Linked DNA regions of Homo sapiens: region 2 is linked to region 1. Evidence: fine-mapped expression QTL. A gene starts in region 1. The other region holds a variant in brackets. All regions are shown on one strand. Distances are from middle to middle. Region 1 holds the start of OR2C1 (olfactory receptor family 2 subfamily C member 1). Region 2 has its middle 24 kb from the start of ZNF75A.

Region 1 (15,595 bases):
TAGGAAACCTGTAGAGGGTGTTTAAACCCCAGAAAAATTCTGGCACATGCCTGTTGAGCCCCTATGCTCTGCGGGCTGCCACCTTGTGGAGTGTACTTTTGTTTTCAATAAATCTGTGCTTTTGTTGCTTCATTTTTTTCCTTGCCTTGTTTGTGTGTTTTGTCCAGTTCTTCGTTCCAAACGCCAAGAACCTGGACACCCTCCACTAGTAACATTACTAGTGTGTATATCTTTCTGGTTCTTAATATATAATTTTTTTTACATTTACTAATTCTTGTCGGTTTTTTCCATTTATATATATAATTTTTGTTTTTTTCTTTTCGTTTATATATATATATAATTTTTTAAAGCTGCATTTAGGCATGTACCACCATGCATATTCTTTTTAAAATGTTTTTCCATGCTGCTCCCCACCTCCCCCCACCACAATATATATAATCGACCATTCCTCTTTTGGTGGACATACAAATACTTTTCTAATTTTCACGTGTGTGTGATTCCGGATTGGGTATTCTGGGTATATTTTGAAGAGGGAGCTACTAGATTGAGATGTGGAGTGTGAGAGAAAGAAGAGTGGAGGATCATACTAAGGCTTCTATGTAGTCTTTCTGCCTTCAGTCTTGCCCCCCTTCATTCATCCATCATTTATGAAGGCCCTGGTAGCACAAAGGAGTAGTACCTCATCAGGATATAAATACAGGGAGTGGGATGTGAAATAGGTTGATGACACTTCTAAGAAAAGTATGCCATCTTTGATTAAGAATAACCATGGAGGAGTTTTTTAAACACATGCATTTCTTATGTGGATTATCTATTTTGATTCCTACAATGTTCCTGCCACCTGTTATAGTCATTTTACAGATGATGAGACAGAGTGCTATAAAGAGCCACTGACTACCCTAACTAATTAGTTGCAGAGTGCACCCAAATACTCAAGTTCTTGACTCCCAGAGTGTTGAACTTTCTGAGGCACCTTGCTGCCTTTCTATTCAGAGGGCAGGGTAGTAGATGACTAAATGGACAGAAAAGAGAGAGAGAAAGAGAAAGCAGAGCCTGAGTGTGGGAAAAAGCAAGGGCAGAGCACTGCTTTGCATGTCAGATATAAGTATATACATATATATACACACATATGTATTTCTCTTTCTCTCTGTGGCCTGTGGGTTGGATACCCTTATTATAAACCATTAAATAAAACAGAAAACCTTAATTGCATAAGATAGAACCAAATAAATGAACAAATTGAGTTTAATTAGTAGCAGGATATTTACATAGTTTCAAAGTACTTCCCCATAAGACACTTATTAATTACAAAGAGGGAAACAATGGGAAAGCTGGTCAACACAATCTTCATTTAGTGATCCACGTAACACCATTAGAAATGAAAACAACTGAAATATACACCCCCTGATAGGACACAATGAGAAGAATGCAACCTCCCATCTGTGATATTCCTGCCAAAGATGCTAACCTGAGTCTATATGTGAAGAAACTTCAAACCCAAATGGAGACATTGTCTACCAGATAACTGGCTAACAATCTTTTATAGTGTGGCAATCATGAAAGTCAAGAAAAAAACTGAAGAACCATCTCAGACTGACAAAGACTAGAGACATGACAACTAAATGCAATGTGTGATTGTGAAGAAAATTCTTTCGCTATGAAAGGCATCGTTGGGACAGTTGGCAAACATTGAACGGGGTCTGCAGATTAGATAATGAAATGTATTAATGTTCATTAAAAAAAATTTTTTTTTGAGATGGAGTCTCACTCTGTTGCCCAGGCTGGAGTGCAGTGGCATGATCTTGGCTCACCGCAGCCTCTACCTCCTGGGTTCAAGCAATTCTCTTGCCTCAGCCTCCCGGGTAGCTGGGATTATAGGCATGTCCCACCATGCCCAGCTACTTTTTGTATTTTTAGTAGAGATGGGGTTTCACTATGTTGGCCAGGCTTGTCTTGAACCCCTGACCTCAGGTGATCTGCCCACCTCGGCCTCCCAAAGTGCTAGGGTTACAAGTGTGAACCACTGTACCTGGCCCATTTTTCTAATTTTGATGGTTATATTGTGGCTCTGTAGGATAATGTCCTTGTTTGTTGAAAACACACCACAAGATATTTGGGGAAGACAGGGTGTCAGGTTGCTAACTTACTCTCAAATAATTGGAGGTCAGGGGAAGTCTTTGTTTCATGCTTCCAACTTTTCTGTAAGTTTGCGATTGTTTTTACAAAAAAGAGTACGCACAGCTTTAGAGTCAAGACGATTATGCTTTGATTCCCTACCCTACCAAAGCATGATCTTGGGCAAGTTTCCTTTTATGCTGCAGTGTCCTCATCTTAAAATGAGGACTAGCATATGCAGTAAGCCGAGATCACGCCACTGCACTCTAGCCTGGGCGGCAGAGCGAGACTCTGTCTCAAAAAAAAAAAAAAAAAAAAGAGGACAAGCATAATAGCAGGTGGCCCATGGATTGTGAGGATTGAATGAGTGGAAGTGTGTAGAGTTTAGATCCTCATCTAGCAAATGGTGAATACTCAGTACACTTAGCCACCGTTGGTCAAATACACTAGACCTTTTTGCAAAGTCATTAATAGAGCTTCCAAATTAGTCTATTATTTAATTATGTATCTATTTGAGACAGAACCTCACTGTGTCTCCCAGGCTGGAGTGTTGTGATGGAATCACGGTTCGCTGTAGTCTTGAACTCCTGGGCTCAAACGTTCCTCCTGCCTCACCATCCTGAGTAGCTGGGGATATAGGCAAGCACCACTACACTCAGCTAATTTTTAAATTTCTAGTAGAGACGGGATCTCAGTATGTTGCCCAGGCTGGTGTTAAACTCCTGGGTTCAAGCGATCCTCCCTCCTCGGGCTCCCAAAGTGCTGGGATTACGGGTGTGTGAGCCACTGCGTCCTACCATAGTCTCTAATTCAGAGCTCACATACTAAAGTGTATATGCAGCAAGCCAAAGTCACTTTTCAACTTCTATTTCTTCCCGGTTCCTTGATTCTAATCTTTCCTAATCTTTCCTGGACTTGAGCCTGAAGGCTGAGAAGAATGGAAAAGGATTGACTGTCTTCATTGGCAGCTTCAGAATTTGCTCATTTGAGGTATTCAGGCAGCCTTTGATACCTTAAACGGAAAGGTATGGGATCCAGACAGACTCTGAGAAGGGCTCTATGCGATGGGCTCTCAAACTCACTTAAATCCAGTGAGCAGATGAGCATATTCAAATGCTTTTCATTTCTATTTTACTAAGGTTGGTGAGTCTTTCATAGGTCTTGGTGGTTTTAGTGTTTTGTTGTTGTTTGTTTGTTTGTTTGTTTTTTAGACAGAGTCTCATGTTGGCCAGGCTGGTCTTGAACTCCTGACCTCAAGTGATCTGCCTACCTCATTCTCCCAAAGTGCTGGGATTACAGGCGTAAGCCATTGTGCCCGGCCCTTGGTGGTGGTTTTGTCTGTCATTTCCTGAATTTCCAACTGAACAAGACACCAAACATATTTTTTTCCTGGACACCTAGAAATAGGACTCCAAACCCTCAATAACAAGGAGCTTGCTTTATATTTGCTTCTTTTCCTCCCAAATTTTGACCTTGTTTCATGAACACCATTGAGAATGGAACATAAGCGTATGTGTGTTGACGAAGTTATATGCGATCCCTGTGATGTATTCATTTCCTCACCATAGCCAGTCAGCTTGTTCTTCTTCCTCTAATTCCCTGTGTCTTACCACACCCAGAACTCTGTGTTAGTTACAAAATGTCCAATTTTTTCCATATGGAGGCTCTACAGCACTCATATGTCTCAGGAATACCTGTCCATTTTCTTCCTATTTCCTCCCAAGTTATTTCACAACTTAAATGAATTGACTGGAGGATGCAACTGTTCAGTCTCTTGGTACTGTTCTCATAACGTAATCAGCTGGCATTTTGGTTTATATAACAGCTTTAGGAACTTGGTCATTGTGAACCTACTTCTTGAGAACTTGACCTAATCTGAGTGTACTGATCAATGAAAATGTTGAGCCTGGCCATGTGCAATGACTCACACCTGTAATCCCAGCATTTTGGGAGGCTGAGGAGGGTGAATCGCTTGAGACCAGGGGTTTGAGACCAGCTAGCCAACATGGTGAAACCCTGTCTCCACCAAAAAAAAAAAAAAAAATTGGCCTGGCATGGTGGCATACACCTGTAATCCCAGATACTCAGGAGGCTGAGGCACAAGAATTGCTTGAACCCAGGAGACAGAGGTTGCAGTGAGCTGAGATCGCCACTGCACTCCAGCCTGGGCAACCGAGCAAGGCTCTGTCTCAAACAAAACAAAACAAAACAAAACAAAACCAGTGTTGAGCCTGCAAGACTCTGGACTTTAATAAATTCGCCAAGATAATGTTAACAGTTGTCTACTTCTGGAGACGTATTTGAGTATTGCTGTATGAGGAACTGGCAAAATGGCTTTGATCTGCTATTGGAAAAACAAACTCATGACAGGACAGTATGATTAGATGTCTTTGGAAGGAATTATGGTAATGTGGAAAAGGGAACATTTATCATTGTTTGTTCAATGCTGTCCAAGGGATGGGATGACCCCAAAGTGGCAAACATGAAGACGGTCCATTTGACAAATTTAGTTCTTAGCAAGATAAAGGAGGACTCATGAAGCTTATTAATTATATTTGCTAAACACTTATTGAGTATCTACTATGTATAAGGCATGTGTTTCAAAATTATGGGGACACAAAGCCAAAGCCCCTTTTGAACTAGTTCTAAAACCTATTGATTCCCTTTTCTATGGTAATGTAGTTGTCATGCAACTTTCTTATATTAACCTAGCTTCTCTGTCTGGGAAAATAGTAAATGAATCGTGGTAACAGGTGGGGATCCCTTTGGCAATTCTAGGAATGTGCAGAATCACAAATTGGCATTCTGATCCCAACATGTGAGTTCCTGAAAGATGAGTAATTAATTGTGTGCTGAACTGATTGCTGAATTTTAGGAACTGCAGGGCTTCAAGACTAGATCTTGAGGCAGAGAACATACTTTATGGATGGATGATCTTTCCTGGGGTCTTAAATTTGCATAAGGAATCTTAGGACATTCCATTATCCACTGACCAGACTAGCATACCCAAATGCTGGTAAGACATCTGATGTCTGGGACTTTTGGATGGGATGATTTCAATAAGAGAGTAGCAAGGGACCCTCTTTGGCTAGAATCAAAAGGCAAATGACCTTTTTGTTTTGTTTTGTTTTATTTTTGGAGACAGAGTCTTGCTCTTGTCACCCAGGCTGAAGTGCAGTTGTGCAATCTCAGCTCACTGCAACCTTAGTTCACTGCAACCTCCACCTCCCGGGTTCAAGCAAGTCTCCTGCCTCAGCCTCCCAAGTAGCTGGACTATAGGTGTGCACCACCACACCTGGCTAATTTTTGTATTTTTGGTAGAAATGGGGTTTCACTATGTTGGCCAGGCTGGCTCAAACTCCTGACCTCAGGTGACCCACCCACCTCAGCCTCCCAAAGTGCTGAGATTACAGGCATGAGCCACTGTGCCCAGCTGCAAATGACCTTTTTAATCTTTTCTTTCTTTTTTTTTTTTTTTTTTTTTTTTTTTTGAGATGGAGTTTCGCTCTTATTGCCCAGGCTAGAGTGCAGTAGTGCAATCTCGTCTCACGGCAACCTCCACCCTCCAGCTTCAAATGATTCTCCTGCCTCAGCCTCCCAAGTCGCTGGGGTTACAGGCACCCACCACCATGCCCAACTAATTTTTTTCATATTTTTAGTAGAGACGGGGTTTCACCGTGTTGGTCAGGCTGGTCTCGAACTGCTGACCTCGTGATCCACCCACCTCGGCCTCCCAAAGTGCTGGGATTACAGGCGTGAGCCACCGTGCCTGGCTTAATCTTTTATTATTAAATAATAGATTAGTAGAAGAGAAATTGGAATATAGGCATAAGGGAGAGGGTAAACAAGATGATGGAGAGATATATGGATGGAAAGTATGGACAGATATACTACATTATTATTATTGTTATTATTATTATTATTGAGACGGAGTTTTGCTCGTTACCCAGGCTGGAGTGCAATGGCACGATCTCAGCTCACCACAACCTCTGCCTCCCGAGTTCAAGCGATTCTCCTGCCTCAGCCTCCCGAGTAGCTGGGATTACAGGCATGTGCCACGATGCAAGGCTAATTTTGTATTTTTAGTGGAGACAGTGTTTCTCCATGTTGGTCAGGCTGGTCCCGAACTCCTGACCTCAGGTGATCCACCCGCCTCGGCCTCCCAAAGTGCTGGGATTACAGGTGTGAGCCACTGCACCCAGTGGTATACTGCATTATTAAGAAGAGACAGGCCAGGTGCGGTAGATCACACCCATAATCCCAGCACTTGGGGAAGTCAAGGCAGGAAGATTACTTGAGGCCAAGAATTCTAGACCAGCCTGGGCTGTTAACAGAGTGAGACCCCATCTGTAAAAAATAAAAATAAAAATTAGTTAGGTGTGGTAGCATGTGCCTATAGTCCCAGCTACTCAGAAGACTGAAGGATTGCTTGAGCCCAGGAGTTGAAGGCTGCAGTGAGCTAAGATCATGCCACTCTACTTCAGCCTGGGCAACAGAGCAAGACTCCAACTCTTAAAAAAAATGAAGAAGAGACAAAAAGAGGTAGGCAAAGATAATGACAGATAGGGTAAAAACATGAATTGTTTGGGTCTTCATATGAAGTTAATAATACATGGCTTGATTTTATGGAATTATAGTAACATTATGTAAGATACTGCAAGTGGAGGTGCTTTGCTTAGAAAAGTACAGAATTCTGCAGAAATATAAGGCATATTAAATAACATGTGGGCAACAGAGACAGAGACAGTGAGACAGGTCTGTCACAGGTCAATAACCTCTGAGCCCTCAACAACATGTCTCCCCTGCTATCGGTAGTCCACAGTAGGATTTTTGGTAAATAAGTGTAGAACATTACGAATAACACTAACCATGTTCCCAACAGCTTAGGGCTGTCAGCTTAGGGCTGTCAGGAACATGCCTTGGTTTTACCGGAATTAGTATTCCTCATGTTCACCTGGCCAGAGAGAGTTAATGAGAAACGCATGTAGAGATGAAGACGCAATAAATAACGAAGGAGTGTTCTCTCAGCCAACTTCTCTTCCTTTCCCCAGCAACCTCCTCAGTGCGCCCTTCACTTCCATGTTCCGCAGCGTGTAGATGAGGGGATTCACCATGGGTGTGACCAACGAGTAGAACAGGGAAATGAACTTGCCCTGGTCCTGTTTGCTGTTCTTGGCCGGAAGCAGATACCCATAGCTGGCTGAGCCATAGAAGAGGAACACCACCAGCAGATGGGAGAGGCACGTATTGAACGCCTTTCGCCTCCCCTCTGCAGAGCGGATTTTCAGCACTGCCTGAGCAATGAGGCAGTAGGAGATCACGATGATGCTTAGTGGGACTGCAGTGAAGAAGGTGCAGACACCATTGAGCACAGCCTGGTTGAGACTTGTGTCGCCACAGGCCAGTTTGATCATGGCAGGCACCTCGCAGAGGAATCCCTCCACCCTCCGGTGCCCACACAATGGGAGCTGCAGAGTGAATGTTGACTGGATCACAGAGTTGCCCAAGCCACCCAGGCAGGCAATCACAGCCAGCAGCCAGCAGAGCTGGGGGTTCATGATGGCGGTGTAGCGGAGGGGCCGGCACACTGCCACGTAGCGGTCAAATGCCATCACCACCAGCAGGATGCACTCGGTGGCCCCCAGCCAAAGGAAGACATAGAGCTGGGTTATGCAGCCACCATAGCTGATGGTCTTGCCTGGTCCCCATAAATTGATCAGCATTTGGGGGACTGAACTAGTAGCGAAAGCAAGGTCCAAGGAGGAGAGGTTGCTGAGGAAGAAGTACATGGGTGTATGGAGCCGGGCCTCCAGGCGGGAAAGCAAGATGATGGTTGAGTTCCCAAGTAGGGTCAGCAAATAGGAGAAGAGGATGGCTATAAAAAAGATCATCTCCAGCTGGGGATGGTCTGATATGCCCATCAGAACAAAGCCCTGCAAGGAGCTATCATTCACCCCGTCCATCACTGGTTGTCTTCAGTCACTTGATGAATTCATTTAGCGCAAGCTGCTGGAAGAAAAGTCAAGAAAAAGCTGTTGGATGAGGTGGATTTGCATCAGGAACGGTCTAATAGTTCTCTGGGATCCATAGTTAAGTAACAACCTATTTTTTGTTTGTTTTTTGAGACAGAGTCTCTCACTGTCACCCAGGTTGGAGTGCAGTGGCACAATCTCAGCTCACTGCAACCTCCTTCTCCCTGGCTCAAGCAATCCTCTTGTCTCAGCCTCCCAAGTAACTGTGACCACAGGTGTGTGCCACCACATCCAAATAACTTTTGTATTTTTTGTAGAGATGGGGTTTTGCCATGTTGCCCAGGGTTGTCTCCAACTCTTGGGCTCAAGTGATCCATCTGCCTCAGCCTCCCAAAGTGCTGGGATTACAGGCATGAACCACTGCACCTGGACTCCAACTTACTTTTTAAGATTGCAAGCTTTTTTTTTTTTTTTGAGACAGAGTCTCGCTCTGTCACCCAGGCTGGAGTGCAGTGGTGCAATCTCGGCTCATTGCAACTTCCGCCTCCCAGGTGCAAGCAATTCTCCTGCCTCAGCCTCACGAGTAGCTGGGACTACAGGCATGCACCACCATGCCTGGCTAATTTTTGTTTTAGTAGAGACGGGGTTTCACCATGTTGGCCAGGCTGGTCTCGAACTCCTGACCTCGTGATATGCCAGCCTCAGCCTCTCAAAAAGCTGGGATTACAGGTGTGAGCCACCGTGCGTGGCCTAGATTTCAAACTTCTGTTGTAATCCCCATCTACTGTTGGTTACACACCGAATGGAAAAGTTGATTCCATCAGAATGTCAGGTATGAGCTAACACGGAAATGAAGGAAGTGCCTCATGATGACAAAACCAAAAGACCCCAAGAACTGAAGAGCCCTTCAGTTCAGAACAATGGCTATGACGGGATAGAGAGAGTTGACCATTAGAATTAGATGTGAAAGTTCTCAAAAACTTTCAGTCAGACTGAAATTTCAGTCAGGCATGGTGGCTCACACCTGTAATCCCAGCATTTTAAGAGGCTGAGGTGGGAGGATCTCTTGAGCCCCAGTGTTCAAGGCAGCAGTGAGCCCCTGTACTCCAATGCCTGAGTGACAGAGGGAGACCCTATCTCTTGAAAACAACAGCAACAACACATTTCCCCAGCCAAGATTCTGATACGCTCAGGGAAGGGGGGAAGCAGACACATTGTATTTGGAAAAGCTCCCCAGAATTTTCTGTTAAATTTCCTCTGCTCTCTTCTACATCCCTCCCCTCTGAGTTTTACCTCAGTGCTGGATCTAGAAAGATGATGTTTGAGGAATAACATGATGAATCTATAAAGTCACAGAAATAATGGAAAGAGTAGATACAGACTTATGCTCCAAATACAGAAGCTGGGAATGTACAATTTAAGAGGAGGTCAATGTAGAGCAAACAAAACTTCACTTAAGCTTAAATAAGTTTAGGTGGAAAAGGCAAAAGATATAAACAGAGGTTACACAAAAAGGGGTTAAAATAGTTAATGGGTATTCATAATTAGTAAGGGAAATTAGAAGATTTACAGAGGAGATCCCTCTTTTGAGGTATATAACTACTGTGTCCACGTCTAAATCATCAAATAATTCTTAACATCTCATGAGACCGGGTACAGTGGCTCACGCCTGTAATCCCAACACTTTGGGAGGTCAAAGTGGGCAGATCACTTGAGGCCAAGAGTTTGAGATCAGCCTGGCCAACATGGTGAAACCCCGTCTCTACTAATAATACAAAAAATTTGTCGGGCATGGTGGCGGGCGCCTGCAGCCCCAGCTACTCAGGAGGCTGAGGCAGCAGAAACACTTGAAACAGGGAGGCGGAAGTTGCAGTGAGTTGAGATTGCACTACTACACTTCAGCCTGGGCAACAGAGCTAGACTCTGTCTCAAAAAAAAAAAAAAAAAAGAAAAGAAAAGAAAAACAAACAAACAAACAAAAAACCCATCTCATGAACAAAAAAATCAGCTCTTGTTAATAATGGGCCAATCACCATCCCCTTTCCTTGGCCAGGATCTCAACTTTTCTGAAGATCATAAACCACAGCCCTTCCCCTTCCTTCCTTCCTTCCTTCCTTCTTTCTCTTTTTTTGAGATGGAGTCTAGCAGTGTCACCCAGGCTGGAGTGCAGTGGCGTGATCTCAGCTCACTGCAACCTCTGCCTCCCAGGTTCAAGCGATTCTCCTGCCTCAGCCAACCAAGTAGCTGGGATTACAGGAGTGCACCACCACGCCTGACTAATTTTTGTATTTTTAGTAGAGGCGGGGTTTCACCATGTTGGCCAGGCTGGTCTTGAACTCCTGGCCTCAGGTTATCTGCCTACCTTGGCCTCCCAAAGTGTTGGGATTACAAGCATGAGCTACCATTCCCGGCCTACTTATTCTTTTTTTTTTTTTTTTTTTTGAGACGGAGTCTCGCTCTGTCACCAGGCTGGAGTGCAGTGGCGGGATCTCGGCTCACTGCAACCTCCACCTCCTGAGTTCAAGCAATTCTCCTGCCTCAGCCTCTCAAGTAGCTGGGACTACAGGTGCACACCACCATCCCCAGCTCATTTTTGTGTTTTTAGTAGAGATGGGGTTTTGACCATGTTGGCCAGGATGGTTTCGATCTCTTGACCTCGTGATCTGCCCGCCTCAGCCTCCCAAAGTGCTGGGATTACAGGCGTGAGCCACCGCGACCGGCCTACTTATTCTTTTCATCTAGGACTTAAGAGAGCTGAGGAACTGAGTTACTAACCGGATAATCAGCTCATCTTTCTTTTCAGAAGTTCTTCCTGAAACCCATTCTACTACCTCCTGCCAGTTCAGGTGCTTGTTCCCTTGTGTCCCTTTAGGGCAAAGAAATAGACAGGGCCGGGCGCAGTGGCTGACGCCTGTAATCTCAACACTTTGGGAGGCCGAGGCAGGCAGATCACTTGAGGTCGGGAGTTCGAGACCATCCTGGCCAACATGGTGAAACATGTCTCTACTAAAAATAAAAAAAAATTATCCGGGCGTGGTGCTACATGTCTGTAATCCCAGCTACTCAGGAGGCTGAGGCAGGAGAATCACTTGAACCCAGGAGGCGGAGTTTGCAGTGAGCTGAGATAATGCCATTGCACTCCAGCCTGGGCAACAAGAGTGAAACTCTACCTCAGAAAAAAAAAAAAAAAAAAGAAAGAAAGAAACAGACAGAAAGACACTGCTCATCTTCTTCCAAAGTTGTTTGGTCTGTGGGGGGCTGGTATTAGACAAAGTGAACAGGGATTTTTCCCCTCCCCAAATCTTAGAATTCAAGAACTAGAAATGGGGGAGTTTGAATCTTAGAAAAAGTCAATTAAGGATGAATGAAAGAAAAAAATACATAGTTAATAGTAAATTTATGTAAATTATTACTTCTAAGAGACATCAGTAAGTTTAAAAACATTCAAACTCATAAGTTTAAAAACATTAAAATTTAAAAACATTAAAACATCATAAGTTTAAAAACATTAAAATTTGGCCAGGCATGGTGGCTCGCGCCTGTAATCCCAACACTTTGGGAGGCCGAGGCGGGTGGATCACGAGGTCAGGAAACCAAGACCATCCTGGCGAACAAAGTGAAACCCCGTCTCTACTAAAAATACAAAAATTAGGCGGGCGTGGTGGTGGGCGCCTGTAGTCCCAGCTACTCGGGAGGCTGAGGCAGGAGAATGGCTTGAACCTGGGAGGCGGAGCTTGCAGTGAGCCAAGATTGCACCACTGCACTCCAGCCTGGGCGACAGAGGGAGACTCTGTCTCAAAAAAAAATTAAAATTTAAATTTAACAAACACAGATACAATGCATGATTAAGGAAATCTAGGCCACTCGGAAGGGACTTTAACTTCTGATGCTTGCATCAGGGAAAACAATCAAGCTCCTTTAAAATGTATTTTCTAATTCTGCTGTCAAAGAAACAATTCTGGCTGAATGGACCATGGGCTGAGCCAAGGTGGCAGTTCTAATAAGCCCAGGATCTTACAAAATACGAAAAAAAAAAAAAAAAAAGACTAAATGCTTGGCAATACATCAAATAAGTACAAAAATTCAACAGCACAAATTTAGACTGGAAAAGGCTAGAGAAGCACAAGTATCCCAGGAGTAGCTCTCAAGGTTACATCTCTGCAAGCTGAAGGCAACTTGCAATGGGTGTCCCAGAGAGAAAAATGAACAAAAGGAGGTTCCATGTAAGGGCTGGGGAGTAAGCTTTCTGCTGTGTACTGTATTAGCAATTCCTTATCCGAGGGTCTTACCTGATTTGCCTAGCATTTTAAAAAGGATAATGGAGTACACAGATTTTTAGAGAACAGGGAGAAGGAGGACATAGGTCCTATGAAGTATGGCCAAGACGGGAGACTTGCTTAGGAGGAAATAGTTAAAGGGAGAAGTGGGTTTTTTACTTCCAATTATTTTTTTCTCAGACCATTCTCCATAACAAATTTTCTTCCAATTAATGTCTTCACTATTATGAGGAGATTTTAAAAATGTGTGCTTCATAAGCAGGTGCTCTCCTTCTCCTTCTCTATGGAAAGCAAAAAAAATAGGGAGGCTGAGGCAGGAGAATTGCTTGAACCTGGGAGGCAGAGGCCGTGGTAAGCCGAAATCATGCCACTGCACTCCAGCCTGGGCAACAGAGCAAAACTCTGTCTCAAAAAAAAAAAAAAAAAAAGAAAAAGAAAAAGAAAAAAAGAAAAAAGACTTAAATTCAGAGCAGGAGAAATTACGATAGGGCATTTTGAGGTGTTGGTGTGATAAAATATTGATTAAATTCTTTGGCAAGAGAAAAATAAGGTATGCTTAGAGATTTGCCTGCCTGAAGGCACTGAATATATCTTAAGTTCTTTTTTTTTTTTTTTTTTTTGAGTCAGGGTCTCACTGTGTCACCCAGGCTGGAGTGTGCAATGATAGCTCACTGCAGCCTCAACCTCCCAGGCTGAAGCAATCCTCCCGCCTCAGCCTCTCAAAGTGTTAGGTTCACAGGCATGAGCCACTGCACCCAGCCTATACCTGAAGTCTTTTATGATCCTTTTCTGCTTGAGGACTCTGTTCCCAGAACAGAGTTGTGCATGCAAAAGGGCTTTTGTTTGTTTGTATGTTAAGAATTTCCCAGCTTCTCTCCTGGACCATTCCAGAGATGACTTTTGTGAAGGGGTTCTTAAAATTGTTGTTTTAAAACTTCCCTTTGGGGCCGGGCACGTGGCTCAAGCCTGTAATCCCAGCACTTTGGGAGGCCGAGGCGGGAGGATCACAAGGTCAGGAGATCGAGACCATCCTGGCTAACACAGTGAAACCCCGTCTCCAGTAAAAATACAAAAAATTAGCCGGGCACGGAGGCAGGCGCCTGTAGTCCCAGCTACTCGGGAGGCTGAGGCAGGAGAATGGCGTGAACCCGGAAGGTGGAGCTTGCAGCAATCCAAGATCGCGCCACTGCACTCCAGCCTGGGCGACAGAGCAAGACTCCATCTCAAAAAAAAAACACAAAAAAAACAAAAAAACAAAAAAACCAACCAACCAACCAACCAAACAAAAAATTTCCCTTTGGGCTGGGCGCGGTGGCTCACGCCTGTAATCTCAGCACTTTGGGAGTCCGAGGCAGGTGGATCATCTGAGGTCAGGAGTTCGAGACCAGACTGGCCAACATGGGAAACCCCCTCTCTACTAAAAATACAAAAATTAGCCGGGCGTGGTGGCAGGCGCCTGTAATTCCAGCTGCTTGGGAGGTTGAGGCGGGAGAATCGCTTGAACCTGGAAGGCGGTGGTTGCAGTGAGCCGAGATCTTGCCATTGCACTCTAGCCTGGGCGACAGAGAGACTCCACCTCAAAAAAAAAAAAAAAAAAAAGATTCCCTTTTACAGTTTGAGTATTTTTCCTTCCTGACTCTTCTTGCTGACAGAGGTCACAGACCTCTGTATAAACGGGCTTGGGCTCTAATACCATGTCACCGCCAACCTTTCGCCTAAAGGAAGAAGCCATAAAACAGTGAATTTTTTTTTTGAGACGGAATCTCGCTTTGTTGCCCAGGCTGGAGTGCAGTGGCACGATCTTGGCTCACTGCAACCTCCGCCTCCTGGGTTCAAGCTATTCTCCTGCCTCTGCCTCCCTAGTAGCTGGGATTACAGGCATGTACCACCACGCCTGGCCCCCAAAATCAGTGCCTTTAAAAAGCTATTTAACACTCTCCCTTTTCTCTCTCCTTCTCTGTCTCTGCTATTTTCCTTTTCCCATCTTTTTTCCCCCCTGTTCGCCTCTCTCTCTTATATCCTGGATTCTTTAATAATCAGTCTAGGGATTGTTTATGGAAATGTACCTTTGGCTTTGAGATTCCCCCACATCCATCCTCTGTCTCCATGCTTAGTGAATCAAGGAGAGAGGGCAGGCATGGGACCGAGAGGGAGGCTGTGCTGCGCTCCTCCTGTCCGCGAACTGGGGCCACAGCTTTTAACCTCGGGGCTCTTCTGGCCCTGGAGTAGCACTGGGTCGCAGTTGGAAGCCTGGCTTGCTGTGGCTGGCTCTGCAGCGCCCAAGGGTAGATCTCCACGCCCGCACAAGCAATTAGCACAAAGCGCCAGTGTGGCCGGAACACAGGAAAAAGCTGTCCCTGAAGAACCGACTCAGTCTGTCACCTGAACTCCCTCCCCAAACACAGATTAGTAATCGAACTAGTAATAAAAATGACAGCATTTCTTAAATAATTGCTAATTATATGACTTTATTCTTTTCAAGGTGCTGTGACATTATCAAACTTAGTTCCTAAAACACTATACAACGTGGGGGAGGGGGGTGGTGGAAGGCAGGTGGCCTTATCTCCTCTTAGCAGAGGAGTAAATTGAACATATAGTGGTTACATGACAGGCTCAGGGTCACACAGGAGTGACCTGACTCCTGTGATGGCCATCCTATGCGGAGGAAGTTGCTATTTTTGACTCATAATCTGAGAGCTGTCATCCTTGAGTGTTTGTTCTTTTGAGGGGCAAGGGCAGAGAGGGGGAGTCCCAGTTCTCTGGTTCCAACATAAACCACAAATCAGGGACATGAGCCTTAGACACTCACAGGGCACCCTGTGAGAAGCAAGAACTTACAGCCACTATTCAATAAACACGTAACAGGTGCCTGGTAACCTGATTAGGCCGTTAGATGTCACAGAAGATGAATTACCCTGAAACTACTGACTTAGAAACCACATTCATTCAAGACACTCTAAGGGTGGAGAGTATGCCAGGTGCAGGTGGGGTACAGGGTGAGCAGGATCAGTCTGGCTTCTGCCCAGTGGGGCCCACTGTCCTGTGGGCCTGGCCCCAGCAAGTCTCTCCTGATCATAGAACTGCTTGCTGGCTTGTGCTGTGTGCTGGTCACTGTGCCCAGCGGTTTATAAACATGATCACAACCATCACACCAGGCAGGGGTTATTATTCCTGTTTTACAATAGAGGAACTCAGGCTGAGAGGTATTCAGTAATTTCTCCAAGGGCAAAT
Region 2 (15,595 bases), 27 kb after region 1:
TACAAAAAATTAGCCAGGCATGGGCCAGGCGCAGTGGCTCATGCCTGTAATCCCAGCACTTTGGGAGGCCAAGATGGGCGGATCACCTGAGGTCGGGAGTTCGAGACCAGCCTGACCAACATATAGAAACCCTGTCTCTACTAAAATTACAAAATTAGCCAGGTGTGGTGGCACATGCCTATAATCCCAGCTACGCGGGAGGCTGAAGAAGAAGAATCGCTTGAACCTGGGAGACGGAGGTTGCAGTGAGCAGAGATCATGCCACTGCACTCCAGCCTGGGCAACAAGAGCGAAACTCTGTCTCAAAAAAAAAAAAAGAAAGAAAGAAAGAAAAGAAAATAGAAAAAAAAAAAAAGAAAAAGAAACTAGGGCCGGGTGTGGTAGCTCGCACCTGTAATCCCAGCACTTTGGGAGGCCGAGGCAGTCAGATCACCTGAGGTCAGGAGTTCAAGACCAGCCTGGTCAACATGGCGAAACTCCATCTCTACTAAAAACACAAAATTAGCCAGGCATGGTGGCAAGTGCCTGTAGTCCCAGCTACTCAGGAGGCTGAGGCAGGAGAATTGCTTGAAACCAGGAGGCAGAGGTTGCAGTCAGCCAAGATCACGCCACTGCACTGCAGCCTGAGCAACAGAGCGAGACTCAATCTCAAAAAAAAGAAAGAAAGAAAGAAAAAGAAAACTACAGGCCAATATTCCTGATGAACATAAAAATTCTCAAAAAAATGTTAGCAAACCAAACTCAGTAACACATTAAAAAGATCGTTCACCATGATCAAGTGGGATTCATCCCAGGGATACAAATCAATAAACATAATGCATCATATTAACAGAATGAAGAATAAAAACCATATTATCATTTCAATACTTTCTGAAAAAGCATTTGACATAATTCAACATCTCTTTATGATAAAAACTCTCACCACCTAGGTATAGAAGGCATACACCTCAAAATAATAAAGTCCATATATGACAAACCCACAGCTAACATCATATTGATATGGGGAAAAACTGAAAGCCTTTCCTCTAAGATCTGGAATAAGACAAGCATATCCACTTTTACCACTTGTCTTCAACATAATACTGGAAATCCTGACCAGAGTAATTAGGCAAAAAGAAAGAAATAAAGGGCTTCCAAATTAGAAAGGAAGAAGCGAAGTTAGTCTTGTTTGCACATGACATGATCTTACATTTAGAAAAACCTAAAGACTCCACAAAAAAATTTTTAGAACTAATAAGCAAGTTCAGTAAAGTTGGTAGATACAAAATCAAAATAAAAAGTAGTAGCCCAGTCTTGCCAACATGATGCAACCTAGTCTCTATTAAAAATACAAAAATTAGCTGGATGTGGTGGTGGGCGCCTGTAATCCCAGCTACTGGGGAGGCTGAGGCATAAGACTCACTTGAACCCAGGAGGTGGAGGTTGCAGTGAGCCAATATTGCGCTACTGCACTCCAGCCTGGGCAATAGAGCGAGACTCAATCTCAAAAAAAAAAAAAAAAAAAAAAAAGCAGTAGCATTTATATATGCCAATAACACACAATCTGAAACATGAAAAAGAAATAAAGAAAGCAATCCCACTTGCAATAGCTTCAAATAATATATAACACCTAGGAATCAATTTAACCAAACAAGTAAAAGATTATACAAAGATAACTATAAAACACTGGTGAAAGACACTGAAGAGCATACACACCAAAAAATGGAAACATATTCCATACTCATGTATTGGAAGATTTAAAATTGTTAAAATGACAATACTACCCAAAGCAATTTACAGATTCAATGCAATCTCTATCAAAATGCCAATGACATTCTTCACAGAAATAAGAAAAGAAAATCCTAAAAGTTATACAGACCCACAAAAGACCACTAATAGTAAAAGTAATCCTGAGTATAAAGAACTAAGTGGAGACAGGCATGGTGGCTCACGCCTGTAATCCCAGCACTTTGGGAGGCTGAGGCGGGCAGATCACCTGAGGTCAGGAGCTCAAGACCAGCCTGGCCAACATGGTGAAACCCCGTCTCTACTAAAGATATAAAAATTAGCCAGGCATGGTGGCACACACCTATAATCCCAGCTACTGGGGAGGCTAAGGCAGGAGAATCACTTGAACTCGGGAGGCGGAGGCTGCAGTGAGCCGAGATCAAGCCATTGCACTCCAGCCTGGGCAACAAGAGTGAGACTCTGTCTTAAAAAAAAAAAAAGAACAAAGTGGAAGCATCATGCTAGCTTTCTTCAAAGTATACTACAAAGCTATAATAACCAAATCAGCATGGTACTGGCATAAAAACAGACACATAGGCCAATGGAGCAGAATAGAGAACACAGATTAAATCCATGCATTTATAACCAACTCATTTTCAACAAAGGTGTCAAGAATATACAATGGGAAGGCTGGGCGTGGTGGCTCTTGCCTGTAATCCCTGTACTTTGGGAATAGTTTAGACTCAAGCAATCTGCCCAGCTTGGCCTCCCAATACCTGCACTTTGGGAGGCTGAGTTGGGCAGATTGCTTGAGTCCAGGAGTTCGAGACCAGCCTGGGCAACATGGTAAAACCCTGTCTGTACAAAAACTTAAAAAAAATTAGCAGGCTGTGCTGAGGTGACTCAAGTCTGTAATCCCAGCACTTTGGGAAGCCGAGGCAGGCGGATCACAAGGTCAAGAGATCGAGACCATCCTGGCCAACATGGTGAAACCCCGTCTCTACTAAAAATACAAAAATTAGCTGGGCATGGTGGTACGTGCCTGTCGTCCCAGCTACTCGGGAGGCTGAGGCGGGAGAATCACTGGAACCCGGGAGGCGGAAGTTGCAGTGAGCTGAAGTTGCACCACTGCACTTCAGCCTGGGGAGAGAGTGATACTCCATCTGAAAAAAAAAAAAAAAAATTAGCAAAGCATGGTGGGGCACACGCGTAGTTCCAGCTACTCAGAAGGCTGAGTTAGGAAGATAACCCAAGTCCAGGAGGAGAAGGTTGCAGTGAGCCAAGATTGTGCCACTGCACTCTAGCCTGGGTGACAGAGTGAGACCCTGTCCCCCCACCACCCCAAAAAGAATATATAATGGGGAAAGGACAATCTCTTCAATAAATGGTGCTTGGGAAAGTGGATATACATAGGTAGAATAATAAAACTAGCCCCCTGTCTCTCACCATATACAAAAATCAACTCAAAATGGATTAAAGACTTAAATCTAAGACCTGAAACTATGAAATTACTAGAAGAAATCATGGGGAAAATGCTCCAGGACATTGATCTAGGCAAAGATATTTTTGTGTAAGATCTCAAAAGCACAGGCAACAAGACAAATGAATTACATCCAACTAAAAATCTTTTGTACATCAAAGGAAACAATAAAGTGAAGAGACAACCCATAGAAAATATTTGTAAACTTGGCTGGGCACAGTGGCCCACGCCTGTAATCCCAGCACTTTGGGAGGCCGAGCCGGGCGGATCACGAGGTCAGGAGATTGAGACCATCCTGGCTAACACGGTGAAACCCCGTCTCTACTAAAAATACAAAAAACTAGCCGGGCGCGGTAGTGGGTGCCTGTAGTACCAGCTACTGGGGAGGCTGAGGCAGGAGAATGGCGCGAACCCGGGAGGCGGAGCTTGCAGTGAGCCGAGATCGTGCCACGCACTCCAGCCTGGGCAACAGAGGGAGACTCCGTCTCAAATAAACTAAACTAAAATAAAATAAAAAAAGAAAATATTTGTAAACTCTCCCTCTGACAAGAAACTAAAAACCAATAATATAAGGCACTCAAACAACTCAATAGCAAAAAAAAAAAAAAAAAAAAAAAAAAAAAAAAAAAAATGGGCAAAAGATCCGAATACACATTTCTCAAATGAAGACATAAATATGGCCTACAGGCATATGAAAAAATGTTCAATATCATCAATCATCAGAGAAATGCAAATCAAAACCACAATGAGATATATCTCACCCCAGTTAAAAATGGCTTTAATTTAAAAAGACAGAAAATAACAGCTGCTGGCGAGGATGTGGAGAAAGGTGAACCCTTGTACGCTGTTGTTGGGAATGTAAATTAGTACAGCCAGTATGGAAAACTGTTGGAAGTTCCTCAAAAAAACTAAAAATAGAACTACCATGTGATCTAGCAATTCCACTACTGGATATATATTCAAAAGAAAGGAAGTCAATATATTGAAGAGATATCTGAGTTCCCATGTTTATTGCAACACTATTCATAAAAGCCATAATGTGAAACCGACCTAAGCGTCCATCAATGGATGAATGGATAAAGAAAATGTGGTGTATGTATATGTGCATACATATATATATATGCAATAGAATATTATTATTCAGCCATAAAAAAGAACACAAATCTTGTCATTTGTAGCATCACAGATGGAACTGAAAGTCATTACTGTAAGTGAAATAAGTCAAGCACAGAAACACAAATATCACACGTTTTCACTCACATGTGGGTGCTGATAAAGTGAATCTCATGAAGCCTGAGAAGGTTAGCAAAGGCCAGGAAGGGTAGTGGGGGGGAGGATAAAAAGAGGTTGATTAATTGGTACAAATATACAGTTAGGTAGAAAAAATAAGAACTAGTGTTCAATAGGTCACTAAGGTGACTATAGTCAACAATAATCTATTACACTTTTCAAAATAGCTAGAAGAACGTCTGTAATCCCAGCGCTTTGGGAGGCTGAGTCAGGAGGATGACTTGAGTCCAGGAATTCAAGACCATCCTGGGCAATATGGCAAGACCCTGTCTCTACAAAAAAAAAATTTTTATTTTATTATTTATTTATTTTTTTAATTGATTATTATTATACTTTAAGTTTTAGGGTACATGTGCACAATGTGCAGGTTAGTTACATATGTATACATGTGCCATGCTGGTGCGCTGCACCCACTAACTCGTCATCTAGCATTAGGTATATCTCCCAGTGCTATCCCTCCCCCCTCCCCCCACCCCACAACAGGCCCCAGAGTGAGATGTTCCCCTTCCTGTGTCCTTGTGTTCTCATTGTTCAATTCCCACCTATGAGTGAAAATATGCAGTGTTTGGTTTTTTGTTCTTATGATAGTTTAATGAGAATGATGATTTCCAATTTCATCCATGTCCCTACAAAGGACGTGAACTCATCATTTTTTATGGCTGCATAGTATTCCATGGTGTATATGTGCCACATTTTCTTAATCCAGTCTATCATTGTTGGACATTTGGGTTGGTTCCAAGTCTTTGCTATTGTGAATAATGCCGCAATAAACATACGTGTGCATGTGCCTTTATAGCAGCATGATTTATAGTCCTTTGGGAATATACCCAGTAATGGGATGGCTGGGTCAAATCTACAACTATCTGATCTTTGACAAACCTGACAAAAACAAGCAATGGGGAAAGGATTCTCTATTTAATAAATGGTGCTGGGAAAACTGGCTAGCCATATGGAGAAAGCTGAAACTGGATCCCTTCCTTACACCTTATACAAAAATCAATTCAAGATGGATTAAAGACTTAAACGTTAGACCTAAAACCATAAAAACCCTAGAAGAAAACCTAGGCATTACCATTCAGGACATAGGCATGGGCAAGGACTTCATGTCTAAAACACCAAAAGCAATGGCAACCAAAGCCAAAATTGACAAATGGGATCTAATTAAACTAAAGAGCTTCTGCACAGCAAAAGAAACTACCATCAGAGTGAACAGGCAACCTACAAAATGGGAGAAAATTTTCGCAACCTACTCATCTGACAAAGGGCTGATATCCAGAATCTACAATGAACCCAAACAAATTTACAAGAAAAAAACAAACAACCCCATCAAAAAGTGGGCGAAGGACATAAACAGACACTTCTCAAAAGAAGACATTTATGCAGCCGAAACACACATGAAAAAATGCTCACCATCATTGGCCATCAGAGAAATGCAAATCAAAACCACAATGAGATACCATCTCACACCAGTTAGAATGGCAATCATTAAAAAGTCAGGAAACAACAGGTGCTGGAGAGGATGTGGAGAAATAGCAACACTTTTACACTATTGGTGGGACTGTAAACTAGTTCAACCATTGTGGAAGTCAGTGTGGCTATTCCTCAGGGATCTAGAACTAGAAAAAAAAAATTTTTAATTACAAATTAGCTGGGCCTAGTGGTGCACACCTGTAGTCCTAGCCACTCAGGAGGTTGAGGCAGGATGATCTCTTGAGCCCAGGAATTTGAAATGGCAGTGAGCTGTGACTGTGCCACTGCATGCAGCCTGGGCTACAAAATAAGACTCTGTCTCTAAAAAATAAAAATAAATAGCTAGAAGAGAATAATTCAAATGTTCTTAGCATAAAGAAAATATAAATATTTAATGTGACAGATATACTAATTACTCTCATTTGATGTTTACACATTATATGAATGTATTCAATCATCACATACATACATATATTATGTATCAATAAAAAATAAAGATTATGATGGTTCACAAGGCAAAAAAAAGTTACCTATGTAAAACTCTTTGGCTTTATCTATGCGGGTCTATTTCTGGACTCTCCATTCTGTTCCATTGATCTATGTGTCTATCCCTTTACAAATAGCACACTGTTTTGATTAATGTAGCTTTAGAAAAAGTCTTAAAATCAGCCGGGCATGGTGGCTCACATCTGTAATCCCAGCACTTCGGGAGGCTGAGGCGGGTGGATCACGAGGTCAGGAGATCGAGACCATCCTGGATAACACGATGAAACCCTGTCTCTACTAAAAAAGAAAAAAAATACAAAAAATTAGCTGGGTGTGGTGGCGGGCGCCTATAGTCCCAGCTACTCGGGAGGTTGAGGCAGGAGAATGGCGTGAACCTGGAAGGCAGAGCTTGCAGTGGGCCGAGATCTCACCACTGCACTCCAGCCTGGGCAACAGAGCGAGACACCATCTCAAAACAAAACAAACAAACAAAACAAAAAAACAAAAACAAACACACTTTTTCTTTGATGTTGTTAAATTTTAAGGCCAGGCGCGGTGGCTCATGCCTGTAATCCCAGCACTTTGGGAGGCCGAGGCGGGCGGATCACAAGGTCAGGAGTTTGAGACCAGCCTGGTCAATATGGTGAAACCCCATCTCTACTAAAAATACAAAAATTAGCCAGGCATAATGGCGGGCACCTGTAATCCCAGCTACTCAGGAGGCTGAGGCAGGGGAATCACTTGAACCCGGGAAGCAGAGGTTACAGTGAGCTGAGATTGCGCCACTGCACTCCAGCCTGGGCAACAGAGTGAGACTCCACCTCAAAAAAAAAAAAAAAAAAAAAAAAGGCCGGGCGCCGTGGCTCACGCCTGTAATCCCAGCACTTTGGGAGGCCGAGGTGGGTGGATCATGAGGTCAGGAGATTGAGACCATCCTGGCTAACACAGTGAAACCCCATCTCTACTAAAAATACAAAAAATTAGCCGGGTGTGGTGGCGGGCATCTGTAGTCCCAGCTACTCAGGAGGCTGAGGCAGGAGAATGGCATGAACCTGGGAAGCGGAGCTTGCAGTGAGCTGAGATCGCGCCACTGCACTCCAGCCTGGGCGACAGAGCGAGACTCTGTCTCAAAATAATAATAATAATAATTTACTGTAATGTTTCTAGGTATGCATGTTTTTCCCCCTTTTTGGCCTTTATTCTTATCTATCCTATAAACTCTTTTCGTGGTGTTCTTTTGTCTTTAATCCTGGGACATTCTTGGTCATTCTTCAGATATTTTCTATATTAATTATTGTTTATTTTTCTCTCCTTCTGATACTCCTTCTCACACAAATGCAGGCAGAATGTTTCCATTTCTTCTTCCCGCTCCATAGCTAAGCTGTGTGTGTGTGTGTGTGTGTGTGTGTGTGTGTGTGTGTGTGTGTCTTCCCTCCCATCCCTTCCTGATGCCTTCTAGAGGTGTTCCTCTTTCTGATCTTTCTGCTTACTGATTCCTTATTTGACTGTATCCTTTGGCTCCGTCAGTGAGCCAAGATCATGCCATTGTACTCCTGCCTGGGTGACAAAGTGAGACCCTGCTTCAAATTAATTAATTAATTAATTAATTTTCCTAGTCCACCCAACTGTTTTATTTCATGTGTTGTGTTTACTATTCCCTGTGCACATCAGCTACCTTGGTGATAAAGTAAGTGAAGGAAAGACCAAAGGTCAGGCCCTGGCTGTTCTCCACCAGGCAAGTTTAGACAGGGCGTGGGGCAACACCCTCAGAGCATAGTACTTCTGGCAACACTCTCTGGGCTTGAACTCTTCCTATTTGTCAACCCTGTTTGTCATTGCTCCACCAGGGACCCTGCCTTCAGTTAACGTGGTATGCTTCTGATTTGGGTATGTTCTTTTCAAGAGAGTTGTTGGGATAAGGAGAGGGAGGGTGAGCACAGAACCCCAAAGGGGAGCCAATTTCCTACACCAGTTATTTTCTGCTCTCCATCCTAGTCTGGCTACCTATCCAAGCTTACATTGTCCTCCCAGGAGACAGGTGCTAGGTTTTTGGTTGTTTTTCCTGTCTCACAGTTTTGACAGGCTGATACATAAAAAGTGACCAATAAATATCTTCCCAATGTTGAATGAATGAATGAGCACACAGCGTACATAATTCTCAAAAAGTTTTAGGGAGTAAACTTAGGCGGAGTAATCCTTAGGCAGAGATAAGAACAGAATGAATTTTTGTCAGCAGGTTAATTTAAGTGTTGATTTGAGACTTGCAGAAGGTAATAAACAGTAGCTTATGGCACGAGGAATTCTGGTTGCAAAGAACTCTTGTTTGGCTAAGTATGTTTTTATAAGACCACACTGATAAATTATGGCAAGTATTAACTGGCCATAAAGGATCTTTCACAGCAGTTTGTAGCACACTTCTTGACTATCAGGACACTGGGTGTTAAAGCATAGAGTAACTACTTTAGAAAAACTCCAGACAGAGGATCAAGGTAAGGAAGGAACACTAACCAGGGTAAAGGAGAGAAAATTCCTCATTACAAGGAAGCATGATAACAAATGAGGAAGAAAGTAGAATAGGGATATTAAATTTTGAGGTTCATTTTTCTTCTTAGAAGTTACCCAAATGGGATGGTCAAATGCTAATTAAAACAAAATAAAATCAAGCAGGTTTACTAAGAGGGAGGTGAACTATAATGAAATTTTAATGCTTTGAATATTTATTTACACATTGTTTCAAGAAAAAAAAAATTAAAGCCAATGCAAGTGAGTAAATGAGAAACTCTTCTGAGGGCACTTTGAACTCCTGGGGAGATGCCTGGTGTAATTATTATTAGTTTTTTGTTCAGTAGGCTTTCAGGAAACCACTAATTAACCGATGCCACTGAACTCTTAATGAATGAAGCACTCTGAGGCTTGTTAAAAGTGCAGGAGTAGATTACTTAGTTTCAAGTTAGTAATAACTTGCTCCAGGGATCATCACGGGCATCTAGTATCCCTTCCGGACCACTCTCATTACGAGGCATCTGGGATGCCTGGTGTTCTCATAAATGGATACTCCAGGGAGGAGGTCAAGAGGGTCTTCTTACAAAGCCATCTTGAGAAGTTGTCAGTAAAGTTTTTTGGTCACCCTCTGGGGAAGGGAAAGGCAGCTCCTGTGTTCTCAATGAGCTTTGCTCCTATGGGACAGAGGTCCTCCACTGAGTAGGAACTGTTCCCCAAAGATGGTTTAGGGCAGAGATTGTCAAGAATTATCTCTTACAAACTGAACTATTTAAGGGTGAAATGTTAGAATGTCTGAGATTTACTTTAAAATACTCCAAAGTAAACCAACAACCCTCTAAATGCAAAAAATAAAAAAACTGGAGGGGATAAATGAAACAAGATTGGCAAAATGTTGGTGATTTTTAAGGCCTTGAGGGGGTTCATTATACTATTCTCTTTATAATTATATATATGTTTGATAACTTCCATAAGAAAAACCTCTAAGTGGGTACATATAAAAGGATTGTCCATTTCCTATATATATTATTTTAAATCAGTTATTACTCTATGTATTTATTAGAATTATTTCGGTTACAATGAACAGAAACCCCAATTCACATTGGCTTAAACAATAAAGGGAATGTATAGATTCACGTAGCTGAAAAGTACTGGGCAGTTCTAGGTATGAGGTGATGCTTGATCCTACAGCTCAATGATGTTACCAAGGACTGAATTTCTATCACTCTATTCTGCTTTCTATGATGCTGATTTCATCCTAAGGCTCATCTATGTCCCAGTTTCAAGAAGATTGTGAACAGCTACTGGGTTACATGCGTCATCCAGCAAGAGCTGGATTTGTTCTAGCATCTCCAAGAAAAGTCCCAATAGGACCAGCTTAAGGCCATATGCCTAACCCTGAGCCATTGTCTAACCAAGGAGGTAGAATCTTTCTCTTACTGAGGTTGGGTCACATTCTCCATTCCTGGAAACCAGGATCAGGAACCTCTCAGATCTCCAAATGGAATCAGGATTGACAGAGAGGAAAAAGGGTGAAACGGATGTTAGGAGGCAGTCAACAAATGTCTGCTACACTCCCCAAGTGTAAAGCTTCTAGTTGAATAGAACAGAGGGCACTGAACCATATCTTCTAAAACTGCAATAGAGGTGTGAATCTGTGGTCAGAGATCAGGGACCTGGATGGTCTGTAGAAGTGGAAGATTTCCTTAAGGCAGTGTCTGGTGTGGATGGGAATGGTTTTGAGAGGGTAATGTGCTTCATTTTGGAGAGTGTATTTACTTCCGAAAGAAAGACATCATTTTGCCTGGTGTAGGGTGAGTGCTGGGTTTGTTCTCGGCGTCCCAGGCTGTCATCATAAGAATGCACTTGAGCCAGGCACGGTGGCTCACGCCTGTAATCCCAGCACTTTGGGAGGGCGAGGCGGGCCAATCACGAGGTCTGGAGTTTAAGACCAGCCTGACAAACATGGTGAAACCCTGTCTCTACTAAAAATAAAAAAATTAGCCAGGCTTGGTGGCGCACATCTGTAATCCCAGCTACTCAGGAGACTGAGGCAGGAGAATTGCTTGAACCCAGGAGACAGAGCTTGCA[T/G]TGAGCCGAGATCGCACCACTGCACTCCAGCCTGGGCAACAGAGTGAGACTTTGCCTAAAAAAAAAAAAAAAAAAAGAATGCACTTGAGCACTCTTGCAGTATAATACCTCCATGCTTTGGAGATAATCTCCATCACTAATACTCACATCAGGCACCTACATGCCTCATTTAGCATGGCAATTTGAGAAATATTTTATATTTTTACATTTTTTCCCTTTTACACCAACAAAGCAAAAACATAGTGAAAAACATCTTAATATTTAAAAATATATACACTTAAGATATCTACCTATATGAGATATAGGTATCCATAGAGTTTATTCACATATGTATTAATATACAGGCATACCTTATTGTGCCTTACTTTGTGACACTTCACAGATATTGTATTTTTTATGAATTGAAGGTTTGTGGCAAGCCTGTGATGAGCAAGTCTATCGCTGCCATTTTTCCAACAGCACACACTCACTTCATATCTCCATGCCAGTATTTTTAAAGTGTATATATATATATATATATATATATATATATATATATATATATATTTTTAGACATAATGCAATTACACCCTTAAAGACTATACTACAGGCCAGGTGTGATGGCTCATACTTGTAATCCCAGCACTTTGGGAAGCCAAGGCAGGAGGATCACTTAAGCCCACGAGTTTGAGACCAGCCTGGGCGACATAGTAAGACCCCTATCTCTATTAAAAAATAAGTAAATAGGCTGGGCACAGTGGCTCAGGCCTGTAATCCCAGCACATTGGGAGGCTGAGGGTGGCTAATCGGTTGAGGCCAGGAGTTCAAGACCAGCCTGGCCAACATGGTGAAACCCCATCTCTACTAAAAATAAAAAAATTAGCTGGGCCTGGTGGCAGGTGCCTGTAATCCCAGCTACTTCAGAGGCTGAGACAAAAGAACCACTTGAACCTGGGAGGCAGAGGTTGCAGGGAACTGAGATCATGCCATTGCACTCCAGTCTGGGTGACAGAGTGAGGCTCTGTCTCAAAACATAAAACACAATACAATACAATACAAAACTGAAAAATAAAAAAGACTACAGTACAGTGTAAATATAACTTTTTTATATGTACTGGAAAACCAAAAAATTTGTGTGACTCACTTCATTCTGATATTCATGTTATTGCATGGGCCTGGAACCAAACCTGCAATATATTTGAGGTAAGCATATATATGTATATGTAAGTATGTATATGTATGTATGTACATATATATACGTGTGTGTGTGTGTAGGAGCTAGGTGTGATGGCATGCACCTGCAGTCCCAGATTTGGGGAGGTTTAGGCAGGAGGATCACTTGAGTCCAGGAGTTCGAGGCCAGCCTGGGCAACATATCAAGACTCCCATCTCTAACATATTTATAAAACAAACATACGTAGAGAGAAATCCATTACAACACTGAGCAGTTTAGTTAGATATTTTTCTCATGGTTGCTTGGTCAATTCAGTAGAGTGAGTACTTTGATTTGGTCCCAGAACATGAGGCTGATGCATCATAATGTGCTTTCTTCAACTCAATGGCCTTTGCCCATCTATTAACTCTGCTATGCAGGTGAATTGCCTGAGCTCAGGAGTTCGAGACCAGCCTGGGAAACACGTTGAAACCCTATCTCTATTAAAACACAAAAAATTAGCCAGGTGTGGTGGTGCACACCTGTGGTGCCAGCTACTTGGGAAGCATGAGGCCCGAGAATTGCTTGAACTGGGGAGGAGGTTGCAGTGAGCCGAGACCGGGCAACTGCACTCCAGCCTGGGGGATAGAGTGAGGCTCTGTCTCCAAAAAATAAAATAAAAAATTTTTTTTCCTAACTCTTCTGTGTAACAAGCTGTTGTTCCCTATGCTACTAAATATTTTAGGAATTTTTCTAATGCTACAAATATTTAATTTTGTCTTTGTGAACAGTAAAGATCTTTTACTTTTTGATTGTTTCAAATGCTTTGAAATCATTCAGTTGATTGTACAAATCATGGGCAAATGCTTAGTGTGAAAATTATGTTGGAAGTATACCTATTGGTTTTAAAAATTCAACAGTAAGGATCAGCAGCTACAACACTAGAAAGATGGCAGAGCAAAAGCAAAGAAAAATCCCTTTGGTTCCAGAAAATCTCCTGAAAAAGAGGAAGGCTTATCAAGTCCTCAAAGCCACTCAGACAAAGCAGGCACTTTTGGCAAAGAAGGAGCAGCGGAAAGGAAAAGGGCTCAGGTTTAAGGGACTGGAATCATTCCTACATAATTCCTGGTGGCAGAAATGTGACAAGGTGTGTCTCAGATGACTAGAAATGAAACCTCGTGCCTTGGAATTGCCAGATAAACATTCCTTGGCCTTTGTTGTATGCAGCAAAAGGATTGTTGGCGTGAGTCTACTGGTGCAGACAGCCATTGCAAGACTTCATCTTAAGAAAATTTTTAGTGGTGTCTTTGTAAAAGTCACCCCCCAGAACCTAAAAATGCTGCGTATAGTGGAACCTTATGTGATCTGGGGATTTCCAAATCTGAAGTCTGTCCGGGAATTCATTCTGAAACATGGACAAGCCAAGGTCAATAAGAACACCATCCCTCTGACAGACAACACAGTGATTGAGGAGCACCTGGGGAAGTTTGGTGTCATTTGCTTGGAAGACCTCATTCATGAAATTGCCTCCCAGTGAAGCATTTCCAGGAGATCTCATGGTTCTTTTGCCCTTTCCACCTCTCAGTGGTCCATCATGCTACCAAAAATACAGTGGGCTTCCTCAAGGAGATGGGCACATCTGGCTATTGGGGTGAATGCATCAATCAGCTCATCTGCCAGCTGAACTAGACCCAGGTGCCAAACTGCAGTAAATTTTTATCAATGAAGTGGAAGCATGTGTTTTTGTTTTTTTGAGATTTTTTTTATCAAGTATCTTCAAAGACTATTTCCTGCTTTATCTTCAAAAACTGGAAAGGAAGGGTTAAAAAAAAAGACAGTAGCTTAGGTTCATGGCAAGTACCTCTCATCACAGTCCAGTTCCAAGGAAAAATTCCAGCATTTTCTACATTGGCTGCCTCCTTGTCGGCGGAAGTAGTCCTGCTTTGTTGAATCTTCTATCCTAGGGTTTAATGTTGGTGAATGAGTAACTCTAGCATTTGTACAAGGCTTCCTAAGACTCCGGGAGCAGTCGACCAAGCCCAGGGACATAATTGAATCTGGAGATTCCTGGGTCCTTGTTTTGAAAAAGACTTGAAATACACATAGGAAGAAAGGCCCAAAAATAAATGTTAACTTGTCAAAAAAAAAAATTTCAACAGTAAGCTTTCTTAGTTTCTCCTAAAAGGTGCATCATATCCAAACACTGTAAAGCTTGATTTTTAATGTCAGCGCTAAGATTGGTGCAACTCAAGATTCATTATCTGAACTGTGGCAGAAATGAAAAGTGATTCAGATAGTTTTCTTAAATCTGAAATGCAATGCAAAAGGTAGCTTGCTTAATTCCTTTCACAGGAGGGATTCAGACTAGGCGAACTGCTTTAGGCAAAGTACACGCATTATCAGATTTGGGTGAATCGTACAGGAGAAAAGCCTTACAGACGCTCGACTGAAGAAGGCATTTCAGTACAGCCCAACTACCATTGCCCAGTGGAGGATTAATACATGAAGGAAACCTAGGCATGTAGCAAATTTGGTTGATGTTTCAAACAGTGCCCTCATCTCGGTCCCCAGTGAACCCACACAAGAAAAAGTGACAGGTGTAGAAAAGATTCAGAAACAAAAGTATGCTTTTTGTTTGGGTGGATTTCTACTGGGACAAACAGTAGAAACGTGAAGTATGGGCAAAACTTTGTTTCCCACTTGAGGGGACTTCAGAGAGTCTACATAGGAGAGAATTCAGTCCACAGAGAATGTGGGGAGAGCTTCAGCAAGTATTTATGCACTAGAAAACCTCCAAGAGAAGAGTAACAGGGCAGCCTTCATCACACATGACAGGGAGGAGTGACCAGGAAATGCTGGAGTAAATGCTTCAGTGGCATGACTCAACAAATATTTGGAAAATCCTTTATGAACTCCCATCTTTTGTTACCAATTGTCCATTTGGATAAAAGAGGCTGCTGGGCGTTCTTCCTCAAACTTACCTGGGAAATTAAACACTGTTCTCAGTAGTTCCAAAAGTTAACAGAAACCCTAGGAGTTTTAGTTTTGAGATTTACTTTGATTCTAAGCCCCTCCTGTTCTTCCCCTCCAGTTAAAAGATATCTGAGGTTGGGCATGGTGGCTCATGCCTGTAATCTCAGTACTTTGGGAGGCCAATGCAGGAGGATCACTTGAGCTTAGGAGTTCAAGATCAGCCTGGGCAACATAGCAAGACCTCATCTCTACTAAAAGTAAAAAAATAATAACCCAGGCATGGTGGCACGTGCCTGGAGTCCCAGATACTCAGAAGGCTGAGGTGGGAGGATTGCTTGAGACTGGGAGATCGAGGCTGTGGTGAGCCCCAGCCTGGGCAACAGAGACCCTTGTCTCAAAAATAAAATATATCTGAGGTTCTCAAGGTGAGCTCAAGGTCCAGTCTGCTTAACGGCAGGGAGAACTCT

What was found. PIP is the estimated chance that this variant, and not a neighbour inherited with it, causes the effect.
Region 2: its variant is the best candidate, but not a certain one, in a credible set for the expression of OR2C1 in whole blood (TOPMed, PIP 0.88).

What each region holds. Positions count from the first base shown.
Region 1 is chr16:3,348,424-3,364,018 of GRCh38, reverse strand. It overlaps OR2C1 (olfactory receptor family 2 subfamily C member 1), which reads right to left and starts at 8,130. Exons shown (of 1, transcript NM_012368.3): 1 at 6,713-8,130. The coding sequence starts at 8,078. The coding sequence ends at 7,140.
Region 2 is chr16:3,321,435-3,337,029 of GRCh38, reverse strand. It overlaps a transcript of ZNF75A not described here, a transcript of OR2C1 not described here and the pseudogene RPL7L1P19. Among named protein-coding and RNA genes, the nearest start is that of ZNF75A, 24 kb to the right of the region's middle. The variant T/G (reference allele first, on the strand shown) is at 11,024.